Homo sapiens: one gene and its partners. The protein of the gene in region 1 interacts with the protein of each later gene in a biochemical or structural test. Each region holds a gene or a part of one and is shown on either strand. Other genes may lie near its edges.

What was found.
Region 2: of the proteins of G3BP1 (region 1) and LCK, one has a biochemical effect on the other in vitro, tested with the Homo sapiens proteins (one study listed by BioGRID).
Region 3: the proteins of G3BP1 (region 1) and USP13 interact in a test that uses a peptide from one of them, tested with the Homo sapiens proteins (one study listed by BioGRID).

Annotation. Positions count from the first base shown.
Region 1 is NC_000005.10:151,774,858-151,778,508, forward strand, and holds part of G3BP1 (ras GTPase-activating protein-binding protein 1), read left to right. Parts: intron 1-3,651. UniProt on the Homo sapiens protein: Protein involved in various processes, such as stress granule formation and innate immunity. Plays an essential role in stress granule formation.
Region 2 is NC_000001.11:32,268,213-32,271,863, forward strand, and holds part of LCK (tyrosine-protein kinase Lck), read left to right. Parts: intron 1-3,651. UniProt on the Homo sapiens protein: Non-receptor tyrosine-protein kinase that plays an essential role in the selection and maturation of developing T-cells in the thymus and in the function of mature T-cells. Plays a key role in T-cell antigen receptor (TCR)-linked signal transduction pathways.
Region 3 is NC_000003.12:179,651,393-179,655,143, forward strand, and holds the start of USP13 (ubiquitin carboxyl-terminal hydrolase 13), read left to right. Parts: upstream 1-1,647; 5' UTR 1,648-1,833; coding exon 1,834-2,001; intron 2,002-2,265; exon of another isoform or gene 2,266-2,280; coding exon of another isoform or gene 2,281-2,358; intron 2,359-3,751. UniProt on the Homo sapiens protein: Deubiquitinase that mediates deubiquitination of target proteins such as BECN1, MITF, SKP2 and USP10 and is involved in various processes such as autophagy, endoplasmic reticulum-associated degradation (ERAD), cell cycle progression or DNA damage response.

The DNA of each region.
Region 1 (3,651 bases):
ACATGTAGTTGGTGATCACAATGTGGTGGCACACTAGGTTTATAATTTTATATCTCAGAAATCAGCTATTTACTTTTTTTAAAAAAGTATTCTTGGACATCCTGTCTGTCTTTAGTTGGGAAGGTCAAGTTGCAAGCCAGGTGATAGGGTTAAGAGTAGGAATAATTCACACACACGAATAGTGTCTTAATATTCTGTCTTACAAGGTGGAAAGCAATTTCAAAAAAATTGCCCTCACAGCCTGTAGCTTAGTAAATAAGGTCTTTAGGCGACTTTGTGATAGAGTCCCTCTTCTGTCAGGTGGCCAGTCTGTCATGTAATAAGTTCTTGGTATGTGTGTTGTATCTTAGGTACTTAATCAAAAGTAAAGATTAAAGATGATTGACAGAAATTTGGCTTCCTGGATGGTATACACATCTACTTAGTAGGGATGTAATCTTTGGTGGCTATTAACTTCACTGGCTATATAAAGCATCATTATGTATTTGTGTAACCTTTTGCATATTTAGAGAGTGCTTTCACACATCTTTGGTATTACCATACTTTTACTAAAAAGTGAATTGGAGCTCTGAAACCGAATTGTCAAAACTATTTTGAAAAGCATGTGGTACCTAATAGGGTACTATAGCCAGCTTATTTCCTTAATTGAAAAATCTTAGAGGGATTTTGAATCTGGAATGTATGAATGTGACACCTGCCTGCCCTTGCAGGCTTCTCCCATATGCTGTTTATGCAAAGCCATAGGCTGTGCCTTAAGTACACCCTTGTTTCTGCACTGAGGTTGCCTAGATTTCCCTGGAGTGTATCCACCTGTCTTGATCTGTTTAAGAATTTTGCGGATGAGCATTAGTATTAACTGTAACATATCTTTTCACGTGATGAGAAAGAACAAAGATTTTTTTAAATTGTGAACCTGAGTAGGTTTTAACTTTGGAGTGGGGAAGGGATACACTAAGATAAAAGATAGTTGTTAAGTATTCTGATTCCTGAAGTTTTTTTTCTTTCAGGAAAACAGTATTTTTGAGATAAAGTAAGATTTGTGGAAGAGTTGCAATAGAGAGGTCTTGAATACCCATTATCCACTGTTAACATCTTATGTAATCCAAGTACATTTAACAGAACTGAGAAATTAACATCGATAAAATACTGTTAATGAAAGACTTTATTTGGATTTCCTTAGTTTTTCTACTAATGTCCTTTTTCTGTTCTAGGATCCAGTCCAAGATGCCACATTGTATGTAGTCTCCTGATCTGTGTCAGTTTCTGTCTTTCCTTTTGTCTTTCGTGACCATGACACTTGATCTCATTTGGATTTGATGTTAAGGATTAGACTGAAGTTACAGATTTTTGGGGGAAGAATACCACAGAAATTACCCTTATCACATCAGATTGGGGGTCCATAATATATAACTGGTTGAATTTAACCTGATGATTTGGTTCAGGTGGTATCTGTCAGGTTAGTGTTTTTTTCCCCTTTAGATACTATTCCTTAGATGCTAGTCACCAAGTCCAGCTCACACTCAAGGAGAGAGGGGAATTAGGCTCTACTTTCTAGAGGGAGGAGAATGTGAATTTGTGGAAGTATATTAAAGCTACTGTTATTATTTTGGGGGAGATGCTTCGAAGCCATGGAAATAAAGTTCCCCTCCTTAATTTTAGCATTTTAATGGATCTCGTCTGCAGCTATTATTACTTCGGGGTTCTAATGGTGATTTTTTTTATTTTCCTCATTCCTTCTACAGTATAAATTTTCTGTGAGGAAGATTTGTGTATTCTTCATGTTTTTTCTTTTTTTCATTTATATCACTATAGACCACGGATATTAATTTTATTCTTTGGGTTGTAATCCACAATTATCCTTGCTGATGTTTACTTATTTTTGATTATTATTTATTTTATATTTTTATAAAATATCGTCCAGGCTGTCTCACACTCCTGGGCTCAAGCAATCCTCTTGTCTTGGCCTCTCAAAGTGCTGGGATTACAGGTGTGAGCCACTGTGCTGGCCACAGTTTATTTTGTTGTTCATGTTGTTCCAGCTTTTTTTTTTTTTTTTGGCTCCTTTGTCCTTTTGACACTTCCCTATCTTATCTGTTTTTTAAAAGCATGTTTTTTCTTTCATTAATTACCAGGTATTTCAGGCTCATCTTGCATTTTGCCTGTCTCAGGTCCAGAATCAACCATTTCTCCAAGGAGGCGTCAGGAAGAATTGTGAAGGGAGGTGACAGGTGGTAAATGCGAAGAGTTTGGAAAAATAGATTGACAGTAGGCCCAGTGATGTTGATACTTTTCTTGCTCTGAGCACAGATGTTGGCTTCTGTATTCATGTTACTCCAGTTCTGGGAAAAGATTTTGTTTCTAAATTCCCACGATTTAGAGAACCAGATATCAAATGTTTGAATACATGACATAATCCTGAAACAAAATTTACAAAAATTTAATATATTCTCAAGTTAGTACACACAAACACTTGCTGTTTTTCCTTGGTGTTTTTGACAACTTTTTTAAAGTAAAAAGACCACTTAAATACTATCGTACTCAGAATTAACATTTGACATTTTGCATTGCCCTCTAAGACTCCTTTTTTTCTATACGGGCTTCCATTCCCTTCCTTCCAGGGATCTTTTTCACATCTTTCCAGGCTGTTTTATTGATGGGGAATTTTTAAAAATAGCTTTATTGAGGTATAATTGACAATAAACTGCATGTTTTTAAAATGTACTGCCTGATAATTTCAGACACCTTTTGTAATCCCAGCTTCTCAAAAGACTGAGGCAGCAGAGAGGATTACTTGAGCCCAGATGTTTGAGGCTGCAGTGACCTATGGTCATGCTACTGCACTCCAGCCTGGGCGACACAGGAGACTCTTAAAAGAAGGTATACCCATGAAACCATCACCACAATCAAGATTGTGAACCTATCCATTACCCCCAAAAGTTTTCTCATGTCCCTTTTCCCTCTTTCTTGCTTGTTCCTTCCACCCTTCTCCCTGCAGGAAATCCTTGATCTTTTTATCACTGTAGATTACTTTGCGTTTTTTAGAATTTTTTTGTAAATACATTATGTTCTTTTTTTAATTGCTCAGTGCTAGTCTGTTGTGTAGGCATATCACAATTTTTTGGTTTACCTGTTGGTGGGCATTGAAAAACGGCAGAAGCTGTGTGTTTCCAGCTTTTTGACTGTTACAAATAAAGCTTCTGAACTTTGTGTACAAGTCTTTGTATGGGTATACGCCTTTATTTCTCTTGGGTAAATGCTTAATAGGGGAATGTTTAGATCATGTAGTAGATGTATGCCTAACTTTTAAAGAAACTCCCTGTTTTCCACAGTGGTTGTACCATTTTACATTGCCACCAGCGATGTTTGGGGGGTTCCAGTTCTGCCAGTATGTTGGCTAACAGTGTGTATGGTCAGTCTTTTTAATTTTAGTCATTGTGACAGGTGTTTAGTGGTACCTCACAGGTTTTAATTTGCATTTCTGTAATTGCTAGTGATCAGCATTTTTCATTTGGCATTCATATAATTTCTTTGGCGAAATATCTTTAAGTCTTTTGCTCATATTTTATGGGATTGGTTACTTAATTATTAATTTTTTTGTTTTGAGACAGTGTTTCGCTCTTGTTGCCCGGGCTGGAGTGCAGTGGCGCCATC
Region 2 (3,651 bases), on another chromosome or scaffold:
AAAGTAATGAGAGAAATGCAAATGCAGAAAGAGAAATGCAAATGCCTGGCAGTATGTTGGGCTTCTTTTCAAAACTTAAAAAAATTTATTATTATTATTCATTTATTTATTTACTTTAGACAAGGGGTCTTGTTCTGTCACCCAGGCTGGAGTGCAGTGGTGCAATCGTAGCTCACTGTGGCCTTGAACTCCTGGGCTCAAGTGATCCTCCTGCCTCAGCCTCCCAAGCACCTGGGATTATAGGCATGCACCACCATGCCCAGCTAGTTTTTATAATAATAATAATAATAAGAGGCTTGCTTGAGGTGATGGATAGCTCATTTATCCCTTTTGTGATTATTACACATTGTATGCCTCTATCAAAATATATCATGTACCCCATAAACATATATACTTACCAGATACCCATAAAAGTAAATAAATAAATAAGTAAATAAATAAATATACAAAATTAGCCGGGCGTGGTGGCACATGCCTGTAATCCCAGCTACTTGGGAGACTGAGGTAGGAGAATCGCTTGAACCTGGGAGGCAGAGGTTGCGGTGGGCCGAGATCGTGCCATTGCACTCCAGCTTGGGCAACAAGAGCAAAACTCCGTCTCAAAAAAAAAAAAAAAAGAAAAGAAAAGAAACAGGAGTCTAGGGCTGGGCACAGTGGCTCATTGCCTGTAATCCCAGCACTTTGGGAGGCTGAGGTCAGGAGTTCGAGACCAGCCTGGCCAACGTGGCAAAACTCTGTCTCTACTAAAAATACAAAACACAAAATACAAAAATTAGCCAGGCGTGGTGGTGCACGCCTGTAGTCCCACCTGCTTAGGGAGGCTGAGGGAGGAGAGACAGAGCTTGCAGTGAGCCCAGATCACACCACTGCACTCCAGCCTGGGCAACAGAGCAAGTCTAAAAAAAAAAAAAAAAGGAAAGAGAGAAAAGAAACAGGAGTCTAGGCTGGGCATGGTGGTTCACGCCTGTAATCCCAGCACTTTGGGAGGCTGAGGTGGGTGGATCACTTGAGGTCAGGAGTTCAAGACCACCCTGGCCAACATGGTGAAACCCCCATCTCTACTAAAATTACAAAAATTAGCTGGGCGTGGTGACACATGCCTGTAGTCCTAGCTAGTCAGGGGGCTGAGGCAGGAGAATCACTTGAACCTGGGAGGTGGAGGTTCCAGTGAGCCAAGTTCACACCACTGAACTCCAGCCTAGGTGACAGAGTGAGATTCTGTCTGTTTTTTTTTCTTTTGAGATGGTATCTTGCTCTGTCACCTAGGCTAGAGTGCAATGGCGTGGTCTCAGCTCACTGCAACCTCCACCTCCATGGTTCAAGCAATTCTCCTGCCTCAGCCTCCCAAGAAGCTGGGATTACAGGCGCGCACCACCACGCCCAGCTAATTTTTGTATTTTTAGTAGAGACAGGGTTTCACCATGTTGGCCAGGCTTGTCTCGAACTCCTGACCATGTGATTTGCCCTCCTCAGCCTCCCAAAGTGCTGGGATTACAGGCATGAGCCACCGCGCCCAGCCGAGACTCTATTAAAAAAAGAAAAAAGAAAGAAACAGGAGTCTAAAGCAAAGGAGATTAATTACCCAGTCCCATTCTTCCACCTTCCAAAGCAGGAGTTGGTAGGACAGAATTGTGCACTGGTGAAAGTGTTTCTAAGCACTAAACTAAGCTAACATTCATGTGAGCTTATGAGAAATGGATGAAGAGCCCCATTTGACAGAAGAGGAAAAGTGAGGCTTAGGAGGAATGATTTCAGCAAAGTCACACAGTAAGTGTCAAAATTGCTATTTGAACTTAGGTCTCTAACTATGGGGACAGTCTTCTGAGTTTTGCTAATGAGAAACTTCCACTGCTCCCTGCTTCCACTTAGACCCAGCATGAATTCTCTCTCTCTGTCTCTCTTTTGTTTTTTCTTTTTAGACAGAGTCTCTGTCACCCAAGTTGGAGTGAACAGTGCGGTGGCAGTGGCAGGATCTAGGCTCACTGCAACCTCCACCTCTTGAGTTCAAGCAATTCTCCAGCCACCATGCCCAGCTAACTTTTTTTTTTTTTTTTTTTTTGTATTTTTAGTAGAGACAGGGTTTCACCATTGTTGGCCAGGCTGGTTGTCTTGAACTTCTGACCCCAGGTGATCCACCCACCTTGGCCTCCCAAAGTGCTGGGATTACAAGCATGAGCCACCGTGCCCAGCCTGCTCTTTTGAGATGGAGTCTCGCTCTGTCATCCAGGCTGGAGTGCAGTGGCTTGATCTCGGCTCACTGCAACCTCTGCCTCCCGGGTTCAAGTGATTCTCCTGCCTCAGCCTCCTGAGTAGCTGGGATTACAGGCGTGTGCCACCATGCCTGGCTAATTTTTGTATTTTTAGTAGACACGGGGTTTCACCATGTTGGTCAGGCTGGTCTTGAACACCTGACCTCGTGATCCACCCGCCTCAGCCTCCCAAAGTGCTGGGATTACAGGAATGAGCCATCGTGCCCGGACTTTTTTTTTTTTTTTTTTTTTTTTTTGAGACGGACGGAATCTCACTCTGTTGCCAGGCTGGAGTGCAATGGCGCAATTCCGGCTCACTGCAACCTCTACCTCCTGGGTTTAAGCGATTCTCCTGCCTCAGCCTCCTGAGTAGCTGAGATTACAGGCACCTGCCACCAAGCCCGATTAATTTTTGGATTTTTAGTAGAGGCAGGGTTGCACCATGTTGGCCAGGATGGTCTCGATCCCTTAATCTTGTGACCCACCCGCCTTGGCCTCCCAAAGTGCTGGGATTACAGGTGTGAGCCACCGCGCCTGGCCTTTTTTTTTTTTTTTTTGAGACAGGCTCTCGCTCTGTTATCCAGGCTGGAGTGCAGTGGCACAATCGTAGCTCATTGCAGCCTTGAGCTCCTGGGCTCAAGTGATCTTTTTGCCTCAGCCTCCCAAGTAGCTGGAACTACAGGCATGCCCCATCACACCTGGCTAATTTTTTGATTTTTTTTCTAGAGATGAGGTCTCACTATGTTGCCCAGGCTAGTCTGGAACTTCTGAGTTTGAATGGTCTTACTGCCTCAGTCTCCCAAAGTGCCGCGATTACAGATGTGAGCCACCACGCCCGGCCAGCAACTCCAGCTTTGCTCTACTCCAAATAGGTTGTGTGACTTTAAGCATACCTCTGTGGGCCTCAGTTTGCTCATCTAAAATCAGAGGTTTAGCCAGGTATGGCAGCTCATGCCTGTAATCCCAGCACTTTGGGAGGCCAAGAAGGAAGGATCACTTGAAGCCAAGAATTTGAGACCAGTCCGGGCAACATAGCAATACCCCCATCTCTAGAACAAATAAAAAATCACCTGGGCTCAGTGGTGCCAGCTACCCAGGAGGCTGAAGTTAGAGGATCACTTGAGCCCAGGAGTTTGAGGTTCCAGTGAGTTAGGATTGGGTCATTGCACTGCAGTCTGGGCAAGAGAGTGACACTTTATCTCAAAAATAAATCAACAAATAATAAAATTGGAGATTAGGCTTGCTGGTTTCTAAGACCTTTGCAGATGGGAGACTCTATGCATTAACACTGCATGTTCCAGTTGACATTTATTAACTAATTTTGGGTGCTGGTGGCTTTCAGACAAATAAACTACAGCTTCTGCTCTTGATGAACCCCCACTCTCATCAAAGGTATGGGAGA
Region 3 (3,751 bases), on another chromosome or scaffold:
TCCCCAGACGTTTGTTACTCGAAACAGTGCTCTAACAAATATCTTTACACAGCCTTAATTTATCTGTTGCATAAATGTCTAGACAAGGAAATGCTGGGGAAAACAGTATGCACATATAAAGTTATGACTGGTATTATTACATTTCCTTCCAAAGAGGTTTATCGTTTTTATCCCCACCAACAATGTAATGAGGGTCTACTTCCCAAACCCATGCTAACTCAATATATCTTTACCAGCCCAAAGGATGAAAAACAGTGTCTCACTGATTTAATTTGTATTTAATCTAAGATTAAATTTTAAGTTTTGTAAAACCAAGTTTATCTCTGTAATTGGAGAAAACATCATCCATTAACGTGAAAGGTAATAAGCTGATGAGACTAAATTCAAAGCAAAAGCTCGCTGAGAGGATCTGCCCAATGAGGAAGATGACAGTAGTGTCTGATTTTTTGCTCAGTGCCACCTCCTCCTTTTCCAACAGATAGCATTTGGGAGTGCTGAGTTATAAGAAAGTGTGGTGCGCTCGAGGCTTGCTTGAGGGTATGGAAATCTTGAGATAGGTCTGGAGAACCAGGGAGAGTTAAAAGAGAAAAAAAGTAAGAAAAAAAAAAGAACTTAAGGACTATCTGATCTGAGAGAGGCTTACAAAAATTAGCGTTTTGGTTCACTATTTCTCGCTATTTCTGCATTTCATTAACTGGCAGGGATCACTGGATACTCTGTCATGAATACATATGTTGGGTGTAGTTAGAGAACCTCAATGTCATTGAACCCGTCTTGTGGGTTTTTTGGAGAGAATGAGAGTATGCTGGGAGACATGCTCTGCTTGCAAATGATCAACCCCCGAGGCCAACCCCATTCATCATTTATTTTGAGGAACTGATGATCAAGACAGGAATATGTATGCCTGCCTACAAAATCCTCAAATCAGGCCACTGAATGTTCGACATGAGAACTTTGAATCACATAGAAGATACTCCAAAGGCAGAGAAAAATAGAAAGCCTTCCGACGCCCTGAAAAAATCTTGACCATCCCTGACTTCCCCCAATATGTAAGAAAACCTGTATTATTATTACACACACACTCCCACACACACCCCGCCCTCCCCCACACACACACCCTCTATCCTCACTCGATCTTATTCTATTCGCTCTATTTTTGAGCCTTGGATGTTAAAGTAAGGAACGAAGCTTAGTGGGGAAGCACTGAAGTGCATGGCGCAAATTTAGATTTAAGCCTCACGTTAGATTTCAGATTTGCACATCGAGTCCCGCCCCTATCCAATCCGGGGACGTCACCGCCCTAGTCTTCGGCTGTTTTAAAAGCAAGCGGTTTTTAAAACCCCCAATCCTGCTCTTTGTGTTGGCCTCCTCGGAGTTGCCCCTCTGCAAGCCAACAATTCGGGATAGAAAACACCTCCGTGGTGTTTTCCCGGGGCCCTCCCGCGCCGCGTTCGGCCGCCAGCCCGCTCGAGCTCCCGCGCCAACGCCTCAGGGGTTCGCCCTCCGCCCCCCGCCGCCGCGCCCGGCCCACGCGCAGGGCCCCTCTCCAGCGCCCCCTCCCCGGCACGCTGCGGCTGGCGCTCCCCAGCCCCGCCTGACGCTGCAGCTGGGCCGGAGACTCGCCATTGGATTAAAAATAGCGTCGCCAGTCCGCCCCAAGCCCGCGGTGCCCGCTCCCGCCCCGCAGCCCGCTCTCCCCGCCCGCCCCGGCTCGGCCGGCTGCCGTTGCCCGCGCAGCCCGCCCGTCAGCCCGCTCGCTGGCGCCGCCGCCGCCGGCAGACCCCGCGCTCCGGCTCCGGCTCGGCTCGCTCGGCTCCGGTGCGCGCCGAGGCCATGCAGCGCCGGGGCGCCCTGTTCGGCATGCCGGGCGGCAGCGGAGGCAGGAAGATGGCTGCAGGAGACATCGGCGAGCTGCTAGTGCCCCACATGCCCACGATCCGCGTGCCCAGGTCCGGCGACAGGGTCTACAAGAACGAGTGCGCCTTCTCCTACGACTCTCCCGTAAGTGAGGCGCCTCGGGGGAGGGTCGCGGGGCCGGCGGCCTGCGGCACGTGAAGCCGGGGGAGAAGATGCGCAGTGGCGGCCGGGACCTCTTCTCTTCCTCCGGGCGGCAGAGTTGGCTCAGGAACACTGCAGTTCGGCAGACACTTAGTGAGCGCCCCAGGGCTGCTGCAGCCGAGGACTGGCTCGTGCTGGTGGTTTTGCTCCGCCAGCCTCCCCAGGCTGGAAGGGCCCGATTCCCAGCAGCTTGCACACAGCCCCGCCGCCGTTTAAAGATAGATGAAATACAAGAGTTCCCTGTTCCGAACTGCACGTTGCAGATCGTTTGCGTCCTCCGCGGGGCAGAGCGCAGGGCGGGTAGGTGGACGGGATGATCCCCCCACACCCCGGGACACACACAGCCCTTCTTTTTCTGGGACCACTTGCTTTGCTCAGGGATCCCCACTTCTGGACAATTCTGATTTGCTCTCTGAGCTTTTCTTCCACCAGTTCCCATTTCACCCCACTCCTTTTCTTGTCTTTAGAATGTCAGGGCCAGGCGCGGTGGCTCACGTCTGAAATCCTAGCACTTTTTAAGAGGCGGAGGCGGGCGGATCGTTTGAGGTCAGGAGTTCGAGACCAGCCTGGCTAATATGGCGAAACCCCATCTCTACTAAAAAAGAACCCCAAAATTAGCCGGGCGCGGTGGCGGGAGCCTGTAGTCCCAGCTACTCGGGAGGCTGAGGCTTGAGAATCGCTTGAACCGGGAAGGAGGAGGCTGTAGTGGGCCGAGATCGCGCCACTGCCCTCCAGCCTGGGCGACAGAGCGAGACTCCGTCTCAAAAAAAAAAAAAAAAAAATGTCAGACGAAACCTTCCGGTGCCTCCACTCGGGCAGCAGAAATAGGGGATCTACTGGATTGCGATGGTTTTCTTAAGCCTTCCCCACCTTGCCCTTCTAAATGAGTCACTTGGACTGACATGCGCAAGTATAAATTATTAAAAGTTCAATCCCGAGTCGTGACCTCGGAGAATGAGGAGGAAGCTGAGAGGGATCGCCGCCTTCCACCCGGGGCGGTTGGTGGTGGTTTTCACCTGGTTCTATGTGAATGTGTGAGAAGCAGCAGGAGGGTGAATGTCCCTTTCAAAAGTCAAAATGGGCTTCAAAGTGACTCAGCTGTCTGGCGTTTATCATGTCTTTTTGAGGACCAGGTTATTTTTATCCACCCACTTTAGATCTCATATGTCACCCGGCAGATCTCAATGCATTGGGAGGCGCATGGATTGGATGGACCGAGGCAGGTCTCGCAATGGTCTAATGTATTTTATTCATAGCATGTGGACTATTGTCAGAGGGGAAAAGAAAAGTCCAAATGAGCGGCAACATTTCCAAAGTTTCCTTTATTATCTGTGGGTTGATTTTGGCTGGCTTCAAAGCACTTTTGCTCGACACACACTGGAGTATCAGAGTTAGTATCCTCTCTGTGACATTTAGTTTTTTTATTTATGGTAACTCCATATCATTTGAGGGATGAAACCTAACTTAATTTTTGATTGTTTACTTTTTTTTTCTTTCGAAAAGATCCACAGAGTGGAGTGTGACAATCGGCAGTCCTTTTTTAGGATGTTATCCATAAATTATTTGAAAATGCCATTTTCAGATTGTATGGCCAGTGTTGGGCAGTTCCCACTAATAGCTTCTAAAGGTGGAGAGGGATGATGGTCCTAACTTAAGCAATTGACAGATTGTTACCTCCAGGAAGAAGAAAGTG